Linked DNA regions of Homo sapiens: region 2 is linked to region 1. Evidence: fine-mapped expression QTL. Tissue or cell type: whole blood. Region 1 holds a variant in brackets; the other region holds the start of a gene. All regions are shown on one strand. Distances are between the middles of the regions.

The links. PIP is the estimated chance that this variant, and not a neighbour inherited with it, causes the effect.
Region 2: ABCC1 starts here. The variant in region 1 is fine-mapped to the expression of ABCC1 in whole blood (TOPMed, PIP above 0.99).

Annotation. Positions count from the first base shown.
Region 1 is chr16:16,114,025-16,122,130 of GRCh38, reverse strand. ABCC1 (ATP binding cassette subfamily C member 1 (ABCC1 blood group)) reads right to left here. Exons shown (of 31, transcript NM_004996.4): 23 at 7,055-7,365; 24 at 1-156. Among named protein-coding and RNA genes, the nearest start is that of ABCC6, 110 kb to the left of the region's middle. The variant G/C (reference allele first, on the strand shown) is at 4,474.
Region 2 is chr16:15,945,593-15,953,698 of GRCh38, reverse strand. It overlaps ABCC1 (ATP binding cassette subfamily C member 1 (ABCC1 blood group)), which reads right to left and starts at 4,083. Exons shown (of 31, transcript NM_004996.4): 1 at 3,900-4,083. The coding sequence starts at 3,947. It overlaps LOC107984869 (a long non-coding RNA gene), which reads left to right and starts at 4,528. Exons shown (of 3, transcript XR_001752339.2): 1 at 4,528-4,908.

The DNA of each region.
Region 1 (8,106 bases):
CACCTTCAGGTCACTCTGGTGGATGAAGCGCTCCTGCTCCTCGAAGGCTCGAATGACGCTGACCCCCAGCAAGGTCTCGTTGAAATGGGAATAGACCGGGGAGCGGCTGACCGACTCGAGGCGCTTCAGCTGCCGGGAGGAAGCCACGTAGAACCTCTGGGGTAGAGAACAGACGCGGGGAGTTGATGAAGGTTCCCTCCTGCCATCCTCCCAGGGCAGGGCTGTGCTGGAGAACATCTAGACGTAACCGATACCTCCAGGAGGCAAAATGTTAGAGCCGGGCTGCCCTCACAGGGGTGCCCACTCACCTGGTGAACCACAGGAATAGCACCACCAATGACAAGGACAGTGACAATAATAGCTCACGCTTATACAAAGCCCACAGCCCCAGGCATCGTTCTAAGCAGTTTTACAAACATCAGTTCATTCAATCCTCACAAAAAACCTGAGGTGCTCATTCCTATATGTGATGGGTAGACTAAGGCACAAAGAAGCTAGTTAATCTCCTCCCCAAGGTCACATGGCTAGCAAGGGGCAGAACTGGGATTCAAACCCAGGCCATCTGGGCTGCAAAGTGCTAACCTCTACCCTGTACTGCCTCTCTGAAGCCTTTCACCTCTAGGGTTTTCTGGAACCAGCAGTGTGGTTTTCAGCATAGGCTTTGAGGTCAACGAGACCTCAGTTCAAATCCTGACTCAACTACTGACTGGCAATATAAACACGACTAACACTTTACTTCTCTAAGCCTCAGTTTCCTTATCTGTAAAATGGGAACAACAAGGCTTGCTCGGCCAGGTGGGGTGGCTCATGCTTGTAATACCCGCACTTCAGGAGGCAGAGGCGGGAGATCACTTGAGGCCAGGAGTCTGAGACCAGCCCAGGCACATGGCAAAATGCCATCTCTACAAAAATAAAATATTATTAAGAAAACAAACGAAACAAAACAAAGCTTGCTTCACGGGGTCATTGTGAGGGTGACATGTAAGAGTTACAGTCTTACATGTGATGTGTATTTGCGTGGACACATTATTTCATAAATCATATAGATATGCATGATGTCACTAAGCACAGTGCCTGGTAATACTAGGTTGAACCACAGGAAATAGCTGTTTCTGTAGATAAGAAATAAGTATTAGCAGTTTCATATAGTTTGACCTAACAGTAAGCATTCAGTTAGCTGGTGACTATTGTTATCATTAAGTGACAGAATTCCGCCTGTTGATCACATCCCCTCAGGAGTGACTGTGTCCATGCAATGGCCGGTTCCAGCACACTCAGCCCAGCTGAGATGCCCATGAGGATAGGGTCAATCTCGTCACCCCCCTCCGATGGCCTCCCAGCGCTGTTAGAGTTGCCAACCATGCTTCTTCCCTCAACTCATCTCATCCTGTAACTCTCCCCTTCCTTCCCTGCACACAGGCCGCCTGCCTCCACCCACCATGCCCATCCCGTCCAGGCCATTCCTCATCACCCAGCAGATGGGAGCACAGATGTCACTTCCTCGGGAAGCCCTTCCCATCCTCCATGAGCACCTTCTCCGGGCTTCAGTGTCCCAGCTCCCGGGCTACGATGATACGTTTCACAAGCAGCTCCACCCACCCTCGCGGGCAGATGCTTCATCTGCTCTGCCTCCCCCAACCTGGGCATTCAGCCAGTGCCAGGCACCAAGAGCCTCCCGATAAGTCTTGTTAGATTCAGAACAAAAGCCAACCACCTTCTGCAAGCTTTGTGGAGCTGTGGATCAGAGGCTGCACCAGCCATGTGAGGACACTGCGCTCTCCTAGCCTAGGTTTTTCTCATCTACGCAAAAGGAACTGGTGAGCCCGGGGTTCCTGATTCCACAAGGTGCCTACAATTGCTTATCGACAGGAGAGCTGGGAAAACTAACAAAGGGTTGCTAGGAACTCGGCCTCCCTGCATCCTGCCCTGGGCCAGGTGTACTGGGCTGCTTTGGGGCAGAGTCCAACAAAAAGCATCAATAGCAGCAGGTGGCTTTTACAAGGCCTCTGTGGTTGGCAGCTTCTTCCTGGGTGGCGGCACGGGCGTTAATTGCAACCCACAGATGGAGAGTCTTCTGGGGCCCCAGAAGCTATGTAAGTGAACCCAGGTACCGCACAACCCCACGCAGTCTCAGAATAGCTGTTCTGCCAATTCCTGGAATGTGGATCAGATATAATTTCTTCTCCAGCTGTTCCCACCGCCTCCCATGAAATCCAGACCCCTCTGCATGGCTGAAGGCCCAGGTGATCTGCCCCATCTTACCCTGGACCACATCTCCTTCCTCTCTTACCAGCTTGCTTTCTGAACAATCCAGATGCAAATCGCTCTCAAGTGTGTTACCTGTTCACTTTCCTCCACTTGCCACTGCCTCTGAACCTTACTTACTGGAAAAATCTAACCTGAGATGAATATTTGTTCAGGAATGATCTTATTTTATTTTTTAAGACAGTCTCGCTCTGTCACCCTGGCTGGAGTGCAGTGGCACAATCTTGGCTCATTGCAACCTCTGCCTCCCAGGTTCAAGCAATTCTCCTGCCTTAGCCTCCTAAGTAGCTGGAATTGCAGGCGCCCACCACCGTGCCTGGCTAATTTTTCTATTTTTAGTAGAGATGGGGTTTCACCATGTTGGCCAGGCTGGTCTCAAACTCCTGACCTCAGGTGATCCACCTGCCCTGCCGATCTGATGTTTTTTTCAGACAACTCGCCCTGTCACCAAGGCTGAAGTGCACTGGCACAATGTCAGCTCACTGCAACCTCCGCCTCCGAGGCTCAAGTGACCCTTCCATCTCAGCCTCCCAAGCAGGTGGGACTACAGGTTCACGCCACCACACCCAGCTAATTTTTGTATTTTCTGTAGAGACCAGGTTTTCCCATGTTGCTCAGGCTGGTCTCGAACTCCTGGGCCCAAGCAATCCTCCTGTCTAGGCCTCCCAAAGGGCTGGGATTAAAGGCATGAGCCACTGCACCCGACCGAACTTCATATAAATGAAATCTCACAGTACCTACTCTTTTTCGTCTGGCTTCTTTTGATCACTATAACATCTCTGAGATAAACCCAAATTGTTGTGTATTAGCATTTCATTCCTTTTTACTACTCAACCATAAATTGTATAATTATATCACAATTTATTTCTCCACGGTCCTGTTAATGGACATTTGAGCTGTTTCCAGTTTGGGCGATTATGAATCAAGATGCTGAGAACATTCTAAGCACTGCCTTTGCTCTTTTTTTTTTTTTTTTTTTTTTAATATACACTTAGGAATGAGACTGCCTAGTGAGAGGATAAATGTAAATTTAGCCAAAAGCCATTAAAAAATTAACTATTCTATAATCTCAACCCTTAAAAAGACGATGTTTTCATGTATCTGCCTCCCTTCCAGTCCTGCCCACACACATTATGCATTTCATCTCGGTGATAACGACAGTGCACCTAGAACTTGGTCCTTTGCTAAAATCATTTCCTTTGTTGTTGAAAAATAAAAATCCTTGGTGCTCCAACAGCTGCGTCTTCTAATTATCCCTGCTCAAAGCCACATTGCTCCACGGTGTACCCAAGGTCCTGCTATTGGCAGACATTTAAGTTGCCTTCAACACTGCATTTGGCCTGTTTTGTTCTTTTTGGGTCTTTCAGGAAATTTTCCAGCTTGCGTATGAACACAGATAACATATTTGGTAAATGCAGGGGAAAAAAAAAAAAAAAAAAAAGCTGGCACCAATTTCAAGAGGATATAACGAGACTCCAGGAACTGGACCTACTCTCTCTGATTCCATCACTGTTCGTTCTCATCAATCATTGGGCCACAGTGTGGTGGGGCGCAGGGGCCACATGATTGAACCAAGGCCCCCTGGATGCCACCTGAACAGCTGTGCAGCGTGGTTTGAGATATGGTGAGCCTCATGGTTTCTTACTCTTGTTTTGCTTTGCAGCTGGAATGCTCCCATCTAAACAACCCATCCCTACTGGCAATTGTGCTGCGGTTAATCCTTTAGCGGTAACAGCAGTTTTGGAATTGGACAGACTTGAGGTTGCACTCTCAGCTCTCCCACTTAGCAAGATGCTCCACCTGTCAATTGAAAACATTATCTATCCTGCGATATCCTAAGAAACCACATGTGTTCAAAGAACAAAGAACATATAACCGTTTCTGCAGAAGGGATGCAGCAGAGACGACTGACTGCCTACACAATTTCTCCTTTCCCAACAGAAACTTCTCTGTTTTTTTTTAGACAGAGTATCACTCTGTTGCCCAGGCTGGATTGCAGTGATGCAATCTTGGCTCACTGCAACCTCCACCTCCCAGGTTCAAGCAATTCTCCTGTCTCAGCCTTCAGAGCAGCTGGGACTATAGGCACATGCCACCACACCTGGCTAATTTTTGTATTTTTAGTAGAGGTGGGGTTTCACCATATTGGTCAGGCTGCTCTCGAACTCCTGACTTCAGGTGATACACGCGCCTCGGCCTCCCAAAGGG[G/C]TAGGGTTACAGGCGTGAGCCACCGTGCCTAGGCCCAACTGAAAGTTTTTGCTGGGAAGTGCAATGTGCCCAGCTAAAACACGGCACTTTCCAGGGTCCCTTGTGAATAGAGGTGGTCCCATGACTAAGTTCTGGACAATTAGATGTACAGGTGTCCCTCTAATCCAAGGTTGCACTTTCCGTGGTTATATGGTTTGGCTGTGTCCCCACCCAAATTTCATCTTGAATTGTAGTTCCCTTAATCCCCATGTGTCATGGGAGGGACCAGGTGGAGATAACTGAATCGTGGGGGCAGTTTCCCCCAACCCTCATGATAGTGAGTTAGTTCTCACAAGATCTGATGGTTTTATAAGGGGGCTCCCCGACTTCGTGGTGCTCTCATTCTTCTTCCTACTGCCATGTGAAGAAGGACATGTTTGCTTCTCCTTCTGCCATGGCCTCCTCAGCCATGCGGAACTGTGAGTCAATTAAACCTCTTTCCTTAATAAATTACCCAGTATTGGGTATTTCTTCATAGCAGTATGAGGACAAACTAACACACATGGTTTCGGTTATCCATGGTCAACTGTGGTCCAAAAATAATGTGTAAGTTTTAAATTGTGCACCCTTCTGAGTAGTGTGATGAAATCCCCCCCAGTCCCATCCGCGGTGTGAATCATCCCTTTGTCCAGCAGGTCCATGCTGCAGACCCTCCCTGTCAGTTTAGTCACTTAATAGCCATATCGGTTATCAGACTGACGGCCATTGTACTGCAGTGCTTATGGGTAAGTAATCCGAATTTACTCAATAATGCCCCTGGCTGGGCTCAGTGGGTCAATGCCTGTAATCCCAGCACTTTGGCAGGCTGAGGCGGGCGGATCACTTGACGTCAGGAGTTTGAGACTAGCCTGGCCAACATGGTGAAACCTCGTCTCTACTAAAAATACAAAAACTAGCTGGGTGTGGCGCATGCCTGTAATCCCAGCTACTTGGGAGGCTGAGGCAAGAGAATCACTTGAACCCGGGAGGCAGATGTTGCAGTGAGCCGAGATTCCATCACTGCACTCCAGCCTGAAGGACACAGCTAAACTCTGTCTCAAAAAAAAAAGTAATAAAAATAACGCCTCTAATGTGGAGAAGTAGTGATACTGGCATATTGTTATAATTGTTCTATTTTATTATTATAAATTACTGCTATTAATCTATTATGCCAAATTTATAAATTAAACTTTATCATAGGTATGTATGTACAGAAAAAAACAGGATATGTAGGATTCAATACTATCTGCAGTTTAAGGCATCCATTGGGGGAGTCTTAGAATGTGTGCCTGCAGATAAGGGAGTAGTGCTGATTCAGCACCCATATGCTCCCTTGCCCTACTTCCCTTCCTTGATCTCACTGACTGAAATATAGATATAATGGCTGGAGCTCCAGCAGCCACCTTGGACCATGAGGCCAACTTAAGAATGAAAGGGGCCGGGCGCAGTGGCTCACGCCTGTAATCCCAGCACTTTGGGAGGCTGAGGCAGGCGAATCACGAGGTCAGGAGATTGAGACCATCCTGGCTAACATGGTGAAACCTTGTCTCTACTGAAAATACAAAAAAAATTAGCTGGGCGTAGTGGCGGGCGCCTGTAGTCCCAGCTACTCGGGAGGCTGAGGCAGGAGAATGGTGTGAACCCGAGAGGTGGAGCTTGCAGTGAGCCGAGATCGCGCCACTGCACTCCAGCCTGGGCGACAGAGCGAGACTCCATGTCAAATTAAAAAAAAAAAAGAAAGAAAGAAAGAATGAAAGGCTTGTATAAATATGGTAAGATTTTTTAAATTTTTAAATAAAAGCAGGTATCTGGGATATTAAACTCATGAAGCTGCCATACCAGCCCTGAACAGCCTACCTCTAAATTTCTATTATGACAGAGAAAAAGAAAACGTCTATCTTATTTAGGCTGCTATTAGTCATGTTTTTTGTTTAGTTCCTGCCTCCTGCAGGAGGCTTAAGAACTAAAGAATTTTATACTTGAAGAAATTTTAGGCTGGACGCAGTGGCTCACATCTGTAATCCCAACACTTGGGGAGGTCGAGGTGGGTGGATCACCTGAGCTCAGGAGTTTGAGACCAGCCTGGCCAACACTGGTGAAACCCTGTCTCTACTAAAAATACAAAAATTAGCCGGCCGTGGTGGTGCGCACCTGTTAACTCAGGAGGCTGAGGCAGGGGAATCACTTGAACTGGGAGGTGGAGGTTGCAGTAAGCCAAGATTGTGCCACTGCACTCCAGCCTGGGTGACAGAGCGAGACTCTGTCTCAAGAAAAAAAAAGAAATTTTAATAATGAAGTTGTCTTTATAGTGATAGGTTTTGTTTCCTTTTTGAATTGACAGGTGGAAAAGTAAAACTTAGGAAAAAACTGCATTCCACAAAAAAAGTGCATTTTGTTATTGTGAGCAAAAAAACAATTTAGGTATTCGAAACTGACAAAAACAAATCTACATGCTTCAAAAGCACCACACTGGGGACATGGTAAGATAAAACAAGGCTTTAGGTAACACTGGTATATAATGCACAGTAGGGCTTGTCCCGAACACTAAGACCTCACCCCTTACCTGGACGAAGAAGTAGATGAGGCCAAGGGGCGGGATGATGATGGCGGCGATGGGCGTGGCCAGCAGGATAACGATGCAGGCACCAATGACGTTGAACAGGGAGCCCATGAACATCTTGATGACCTCCGGGATCATGGAGTCCACTGTGTCCAGCTCCTTGGAGAAGCGGTTCACCAGGTTCCCACTGGGGGTCCGCTCAAAGAAGCTCATGGGTGACCGCAGGATGCTGTGCAGCAGGTCCACGTGCAGACAGCGGGAAGCCAAGATCCCCCCGATGGACACGGCCATGGAGTAGCCAAACACGGCGATCCCTGCAGACACTCGGAGTTAAAACTCCACAATGCAGAGAGGGAGCTGACCAGGCACTGCAGGGAGGAGTGGCCATGTGGACGAGGCAGGCCTGGACTCCCAACTTCTAATAATAATAATAATGATGAACCAGGCATGGTGGCTCACACCTGTAATCCCAGCACTTTGGGAGGCCGAGGTGGGTGGATCACTTGAGGTCAGGAGATCGAGACCAGCCTGGCCAACACAGTGAAACTCCGTCTCTCCTAAAAATACAAAAATTAGCCAGGCGTGGTGGTTGGCGCCTGTAATCCCAGCTACTCGGGAGGCTGAGGCAAGGGAATTGCTTGAATCCGGGAGGTGGAGGTTGCAGTGAGCCAAGACTGCGTCCACTCCACTCCAACATGGGCGACAGAATGAGACTCCGTCTCAAAAAAAAAAAAATAGTAATAATAATGATGATGATAATGGCAGCTATTATTCAGAGGGTACTTCCTATGTGCTAAGCACTGTGCTGGGTTTTACATGTAACTGATTTTTATGATGACTCTGAATAACTTCTATTACTACCCAACTTACAGATAAGAAAACTGAAGTCCAGATAGGTGAACGCCTTTGCCCTTAGTATACTGTGCCTAGCAGAAGCAGAACTGGGATTTTAATCCAGACAGCCTGCTCTTAATCCCCATGCCATATTCTTCTAGACCAGGGGTCCCCAACCCCGGGGCCACAGATTGGCAGCAGCTCATGACCGGTTAGGAACC
Region 2 (8,106 bases), 170 kb after region 1:
GACACACACCTGCAGCTTCCTTCTGGTCTTCTCCAGTGGCAGTTGGTGCAACAGCAAAAATTAACTGGAGAATTCCAGGTGGCAACGACCACTGATCTTTACTGAGCGCTGTGTGCCAAGCAGCAACATTTTAAGTCCTTGCTAAGGATTAACTCACTTATTCCTCAAGTCACCGCTATTCACTAGGTACTACGTTATCCCACATAGGGAAACTGAGGCACGGAGAGATGACGTAACCTGCCTCAGCAGCAGAGGCGAATTTGCTCTGAGCCACCACACTATACTGCTTAATACCAAGTTGTTTCCTCTGCTTTTCCATAATTTCCAATTTTTCTACACAGGGCCTGAAGCACAATTTTTTTTTTCTTTTGAGACAGTCTCTCTGTCGCCCAGGTTGGAGTGCAGTGATGTGATCTCAGCTCACTGCAACCTCTTCCCAGGTTCAAGCAATTCTCCTGCCTCAGCCTCCCAAGTAGCTGGAATTACAGGCGTGAATCACCAGGCCCAGCTAATTTTTGTATTTTTAGTAGGGATGGGGTTTTGCCATGTTGGTCAGGCTGGTCTTGAACCCCTGACCTCAGGTGATCCGCCTGCCTTGGCCTCCCAAAGTGCTGGGATTACAGGCATGATCTACTACACCCGGCCCTCTTTTTTTTGAGACAGGGTCTCAGTCTGTGGCCCAGACTGGAGTGCAGTGACCGTGATCTCAGCTCATTGCAACCTCCACCCCCACAGCCTTCAAGTGATTCTAGTGCCTCAGCCTCCCTAGTAGCCGGGACCACAGGTGCCACACCACCATGCCAGGCTTTTTTTTTTTTTTTGGTATTATTAGTAGAGACGGGGGTCAATCCATGTTGCCTAGGCTGGTCTCGAACTCCTGACCTCAAGCAATCCGCCTGCCTCAGCCTCCCAAAGTGCTGGGATTACAGGCGTGAGCCACTGCACCCGGCCTGCTTTTTTTTTTTTTTTTTTTTTTTTTTTTAATGAACTCACAAAAAGTCCCAGGCCCATTTTTCCAACCATCATGCCAATATCAACCACAAAGCAGCGCCTCCTACCAGTCCCACCCCCATGAGAAAAGAAAGCCAAGGGCTGCTGTGACCTGTCCTCAGGCCCTATTTTCCGTTTTGATAGCAAAGTTCTCCTTTTCTCTTCCCAGAGCATCTGTCTGAGTAAAGGTCAACAGAACACTTATCATGGGCCATTTCCATCTTCTGGGTTTTCTGGACATTTCCTGCGGCTCAGAGGCAGACAGTAGCCCAGAAACAAAGCTCTGACAGAGTCACCCGAGGCCCACTGACCTTGACTTCTAAGCACATGACCTTGGTCACAACAGGAGCCAGGCACGGGTGCCTCACTGCCTTTTCACAGCCCAATCCCATCTCCACCAGCTGAAGAAAAGGGGAATCCAAAGGAAGAACAAGGAGCTTAAAACACACAACTTCATCTTTGGAAAAAATAATATTTAATACTAACCATTGTTTATCTCCGTGCAGGGCACAAGCTGAGCCACTTACAAGATTAACTCATTGACCCTTCGCAACAACCCAAGAAGGCTGCCACATTTTTGGCTCCTGTCCAATTTTAGAGATGAGGAAAGTGAGGCACACAGAGGGAAAGTGGCTTGCTCAAGGTCACACAGTTATCTGACTGCCTGGGAGGCCAGTCGCTCCTGGCCTCGGACACGCTACCTTGAAAAACACAAAAACAGCCGGGCACAGAGGCCCATGCCTGTAATCTCAACACTTTTGGAGGCCAAGGCAGGAGGATCGCTTGAGCCCAGGAGTAGGAGACCAGCCTGGGCAATATAGTGCGAATCTGTCTCTATAAAAAATACAAAAATTAGCTGGGCGTGGTGGCACACGCCTATAGTCCCAGGTACTTGGGAGGCTGAGTTAGGAGGACCACTTGAGCCGGGGAGGCAGAGATTGCAGTAAGCTGAGATCGTGCCACTGCACTCCAGCCTGGGTGACAGAGCAAGACTCTGTCTCAAAAAAGAAAAAGAAAAAAAAAAGAAAAGAAAAAAGCAACAACTACCTACTTTCTAGCTTTCAGTTAATTATATTTCAATTTTCCCACTCAGGCCCCAGTTGCCTCCTCTCAAATTCTGGTTCCAAGGCACCTCCAACAAGTCTTGGAATCCAGACAGCAGAAATACGCAAGGTCAAACACGGGGATGGGGTACCTACCAGAGGCAGAGATCAGCTACAATTACCCCCAAGCAAAACCCAACCACCTGGCAATTTCTGTGGCAGAAAGTCCTTAACGAAGGAAAAAATAAAAAGAAAAAAGAAAATAAAAATTTTAAAAAATATTACAACTGGACTTCGTGAATGAGTTTCTTAAGATAAACAAAGCGCACCCCAAACATACTCATTAGCCATCAACTACCAATTGCCATCAATAAAATACGTCCTGATACAAAACCTCATGGATGTTCACCCTGTTTTGCCCCCTCCTCAATTCAGAAGAAAATAAACAAGAGAATATTCTGGAATTCACAGCAACACAAACCCAGATCACCATGTGAATCTTTGCAAAAAATAATCTTGCTGTTACTACACCTGGCAACAAGGAAGCCACAGGTTTTCCCCTGCTAAAGAAAGTCCATCTGCAAAGAGGCTCCAATCACCCCCAGACCCTCAAGGCAAAGTCTGTGTTCTATTTCCACCCCTGGGGTTACTCTCCAACCCCACTGGCTTAAAATGGGAGATATATCAAAGTGTGGTAGGTTATTAAACACAATGATACCCTACTAAAAAAAACAAACAAACAAAACCAAACCCTCCAATGGGGCCCTGGAGGATGACTTTTCAACACTCCAAATGCAACCCTCGAGGAAAGGCCGGCAAAACAGGACAAGAAAGTATTTTTGGAAGCTGATCACCAGCTCCTAAGAACCAAGGCTGTTTCTCCTGATTCCTAAACAAAAGAGGAGAGAGAAACAGTCGTGTCCAGATTTGCCTACTGCGTTCACCAACAATCAAGACAGCACGAGACAGAAGTGCCTGCCTTCCTGGAACAAAGAGGCAAATCGCATTACGGAGAAGCTGAAGCCCAAAAGACTGGGGCTTAAACCACAGCAAGTGGACTCCAGACACCCAGTCAGGCTCCGCAGGCCACGTTACAGAAGAAAACTTGCCGGGGTTAAATCTAAGGGGCATCCCCAGAGAGGAGCTCCACGTGTTGCAGGGAAGGGAGGGCAGGACCACAGCTACCAGGGTCCTGGGCGTCCTCAGCTGCACCCCAAGTCTGCCCCGAGCCGAGGGTCAGGTAGGGCACATCAAGGGTGGACATCCCCCTTCTTCCCTGGTTCCCCCAAACTTCCCCCGCAGTATCTAAGTAGAAAGAACAAAAAAAACAAAGCTAGGTAACCACAGAAGAGTAATGTGGCTTGTACGACAACTTTGGGGAGACAATGAAAGTCCCTTTCTACAATCTAAGCCCCTCCCCAGCTCACCCCGTTGGTCACGGAGTATTTTTCGTGAAAAGGGGGGACCCTAACCACAAAAAAGATGGGAAAACAGAAGCAGAGAGACACCCCTCTTCCCGCCCCCCATCTCTAGCGTCCCCTTCCCTGGAAGGTTGTTTTTACAGACGGGAACCCCAAAACAGGAAGGCCTCCTCACGGCGGCTCTGACCCGACCCGACCCTCCAAAACCCCAGGGCTGGGCACGCGGCCCCCCACGCTCTGCTCCGCAGGAACTGAGTCACCCAAGTTTCCCCCATGCCTTGCACCCCCGAAAGGGGCTGGGCCGCGGGCGACGTGAGGGTCCCGGGCCCCCGAGGCCGGCAGCAGAGCGGGGAGCGGGGTGCCCCGGGCGGCTGCGGGCCCGGTGCTTTCCCTCCCCGCCGGCCTCCCTCCGTCCCGCCGGCCTCACGCGGCCCCCGGCACGTACCCAGAGCGGGTCGGAGCCATCGGCGCTGCAGAAGCCCCGGAGCGCCATGCCGGTGGCGCGGGCGGCGGCGGGCACCGGGCGGCGGGTGATCGGGCCCGGTTGCTGGCGCGGGCGGCGGCGGGCACCGGGCGGCGGGTGATCGGGCCCGGCTGCTGGCGCTAGCGCTGGCGGCGGCGGCGGCGGCGGCGCAGGGAGCCGGGGCCGGGGCCGCAACGCCGCCTGGTTGGCCCGCGCGTCACGGGGATGCGGCGGCCCCGCCCCACCCCGCCCCGCCCCGGCGCCCGCTCACCTCGCGCGTCTCGGCGTGGGCAGCCGGACCAGCCACCTCTCGGCGCCCCGGGCCTGGACCCCGCGCCACCCCCACCCCAGATCCTCCAAGGCTTAGGCCCACCCGCTCGCGGACGGGCCTGGGGAGCGTTGGCTCGCCTTCCGGAAGCGCCTGGGATCTTTGGGGCCACACACCCTGCGACCACTTTTCAAATGCTGTTTAAGGACAGTATCCGTCACCAGGGGAAAATAACGTGAACGGAGCCCCCTACCTGCCTGGAGTGTACCGGGCGCCTTAACTGTGCCCTCATTTCATCCTGTAAAGTCTCCACGTTCATGAAGGAAGAAACCCAGGTGCAGAGAGGTTGAGTGATTCCCTCTGCCCAGGGTCACCTGGCTAATCACTTGCAGGGCTGGGATTTGAACCCGGTCCGCTGACTCCAAAGCTGAGTCACACAGAAGGAGGTGAATACTGTTATTCACCTACCTTTTACAGATGGGGAAACTGAGGTTCAGAAAGGCGAAGTGACTTGCCCGAGGTCACACAGTTAATAAGGAGTGAAAGTGGAAGTGAGATTCAAACCCGTGAGCAGCCTGATTCCGGAGCACTGATGACCCAGACGGCGCCAGTCTCCATCACTAACAGCTGTTGACCTCACCTGTGTGCAGAGCGCCTTTGCTTCTTCTCAACCTCTTTAAGCATCACTTAGAAATAACCAGGTTATTGATCCTCACCTCAGAGGTAAGGAAACTGAAGCCTGGAGACATGATAATCGTAGGCCAGGCATGGTGGCTCGTGCTTGTAATCAAGCACTTTGGGAAGCCGAGGCGGGCCGATCACATAAGGTCAGGAGTTCAAGACCAGCCTAGCCAACATAGCAAAACCCTGTCTCTACTAAAAACACAAAAATTAGCCGGGCATGGTGGCGGGCACCTGTAGTCCCAGCTACTTGAGAAGCTGAAACAGGAGAATCACTTGAACCTGGGAGGCGGAGGTTGAAATGAGCTTAGATCACACCACTGCACTCCAGCCTGGGCAACAGAGCAAGACTCTGTCTCAAAAAATAATAATAAAAAAAATTAATATGCATTCACAGTGACAAGGCTTCCTAAGGCTGTGTTCTTAGCAATTTACACAAATTAACTTGTGCAATCCTCACAACCCCATGAGGTAAGAAGTAGTATTATCCCCATTTTGCAGATGAGGCCACTAAGGCCCAGAAAGACAGAGTACATTGTCAGGGATTATTTAGATGGTAAGTGATTAAGCCAAACTTTGAACCCAAGAAGTCTGGCCAGGGAGGTGGGAAGTCTATAATACCATCCATTGCGCCATATTAGTTTTGAACTGTTTCATAGGCAGACAGGTAGAGACAGAGGAGCTAGGGCGAGGCCGCAGAGTGTAAATTTCACTGTGATACCAGCGATGCCTTTCTTTTCTCCTCTCCTCCTTAATCTCCTGCCTGATGTGGGTTTCCATAACACATGCACACAACAGCTGCACCAAATAAAACAGAAACAGTGTGTGCATTTGAGACCTCCCCCCAATCAAAGGACCTAGCGAGGGAAGGAGGAAGGAGGAAGGTAGATAGGATTGTTTTCTGTGATTTTTTTATTGGCCCGGGTCCCCCAAGGGTGAATGAGTTTCTAAGGGATAATTACTTTCATGTAATAATGCCAGTTATGCTGTTGCTTGACCTTTATACTGTCAACAAATATTTATTGAGCATTTACTATATGCCAGATGTCTTGCTAGGAACAAGATAAAATTGCTACTCTTATATAGCTTAAAGGATTGGAATTTTTTTGGATTGGGATTTTTTTAAGTGTTTCTTATGGTAAGATGGCAGATGTTAATCAAATATTATATTTTTGAAAGGGTATTTACAGGCCAGAAGTAGTGACTCACGCATGTAATCTCAGTGCTTTGGGAGGCCGAGGTGGGAGGCTCATTTGGCCCAGGAGTTCAAGGCTACAGTGAGCTATGATTGCACCGCTGCACTGCAGCCTGGGTAACACAGCGAGATCCTGTCTCAGGAAAAAAAAAACAAAAAAAAAAGCCAGGGAAGGGGAGATATGTACAACTATGGTCACAGCTAGAAAAAAAAAGTGGTGGCCGGGCATGGTGGCTCACGCCTGTAATCCCAGCACTTTGGGAGGCCAAGGCAGGCAGATCACTTAAGGTCAGGAGTTCGAGACCAGTCTGACCGATGGTAAAACCCCATCTCTACTAAAAATACAAAAATTAGCTGGGTGTGGTGGCAGGCACCTGCAGGCTCAGCTACTCGGGAGGCTGAGGCAGGAGAATCACTTGAACCTGGGAGGCGGAGGTTGCAGTAAGCCAAGATCATGCCACTGCACTCCAGCCTGGGCGACAAAGCAATACTCTATCTCAAATAAATAAATAAATAAATGTAAAAATACAAAAATTAGCTGGACATGGTGGTGGGTGCCTGTAATCCCAGCTATTCAGGAAGCTAAGGCAGGAGAATCACTTGAACCCAGGAGATGGAGGTTGCAGTGAGCTGAGATGGCCCCACTGCACTCCAGCCTGGACGACAAAGTGTGACTCCATCTCAAAAACACAAACAAAAAAAGTGGGCAAAAGTGGGCCTAAGTTAGCAATTTATACCACCCTTGCTGGGGGGTGGAAGTCAGAGAAGGCTTCCTGGAGGAAGAGGCTTTCAAACTGAGATACAAGGAACGCGTCTGGGTTCCTTGGGCCTGGGTTGTGTTCTGGGCAGAAGAAAACAGTTTATAGCAAAGTTATGAAGCAGGGAGGGTCCTTGGAGGAAACTGAAGACAGCCTGGATGGCAGGAACCCAGAGAAGAAGCAAAAGAAATCCATCCGGAGCAGGTGGGGTCAGAAGGAGCCAGGGCAGGCAGGTACCCGTCGGCCAAAGGAGGGGCAGTGGGAACCACTGGTGGGTTTTAGGCAGGGCACAAGACAGAGTTGGATTTCTTTCCATGTTTTATTCATTCACTCTTTATTCATCCTTTCAACAAATATTTATTGAGCAAGCACATGAAAACATGCTCAACTTCATTAGTCATCAGGGAAATGCAAATAAAACCCCAGTGAAATACCATCATACACCCACCAGAGTGACTGGAAACAAAGACTGAAAATTACGAGTGCAGACAAAGACGTGGATTAACTGGAAAAGGCACGCTCTGTTGGGAGGTATATAAATTGGCTTAACTACTTTGGAAAACTAACAATTTGGCTGGGTGCAGTGGCTCATGCCTGTAATCCCAGCACTTTGGGTGGCCGAGGCAGGTGGATCTCTTGAGCTCAGGAGATTGAGACCAGCCTGAGCAACATGGTGAAACCCCATCTCTACAAAAAATACAAAAAGGTGGGCCAAGGTGGGTGGATTGCCTGAGCTCAGGAGTTCAAGACCAGCCTGGCTGACATGAGGAAACCCCATCTCTATTAACAATACAAAAAAATTAGCCAGGCATGGTGGCACATGCCTGTAATCCGAGCTACTCGGGAGGCTAAGGCAGGAGAACTGCTTGAACCTGGGAGGCGCAGGTTGCAGTGAGCTAAGATCGCGCCACCGCGCTCCAGCCTGGGCGACAGAGTGAGACTCTGTCTCAAAAGTAAAATAAAATAAAATAAAATTAGCTGGGCGTTGTGGCACATGCCTATAGTCTCAGCTACTTGGGGAGCTGAGGCACAACACTCACTTGAACCCAGGAGGCACAGGTTGCTCTGAGCCAAGATCGCACCACTTCACTCCAGCCTAGGTGACAGAGTGAGACTCCATCTCCAAAAAAGAAAGAAAACTAATAATTCGTGCTAAAGTGAAACATACAATTACATAGTGACACAGAAATTCCACTCGCCTCCAAAAGAAAGGTGAGCTTACATCCACCAAAACACATCTACAAAAAATGTTCATAATAGCAACAATATGTATGAATCCCACAAAAC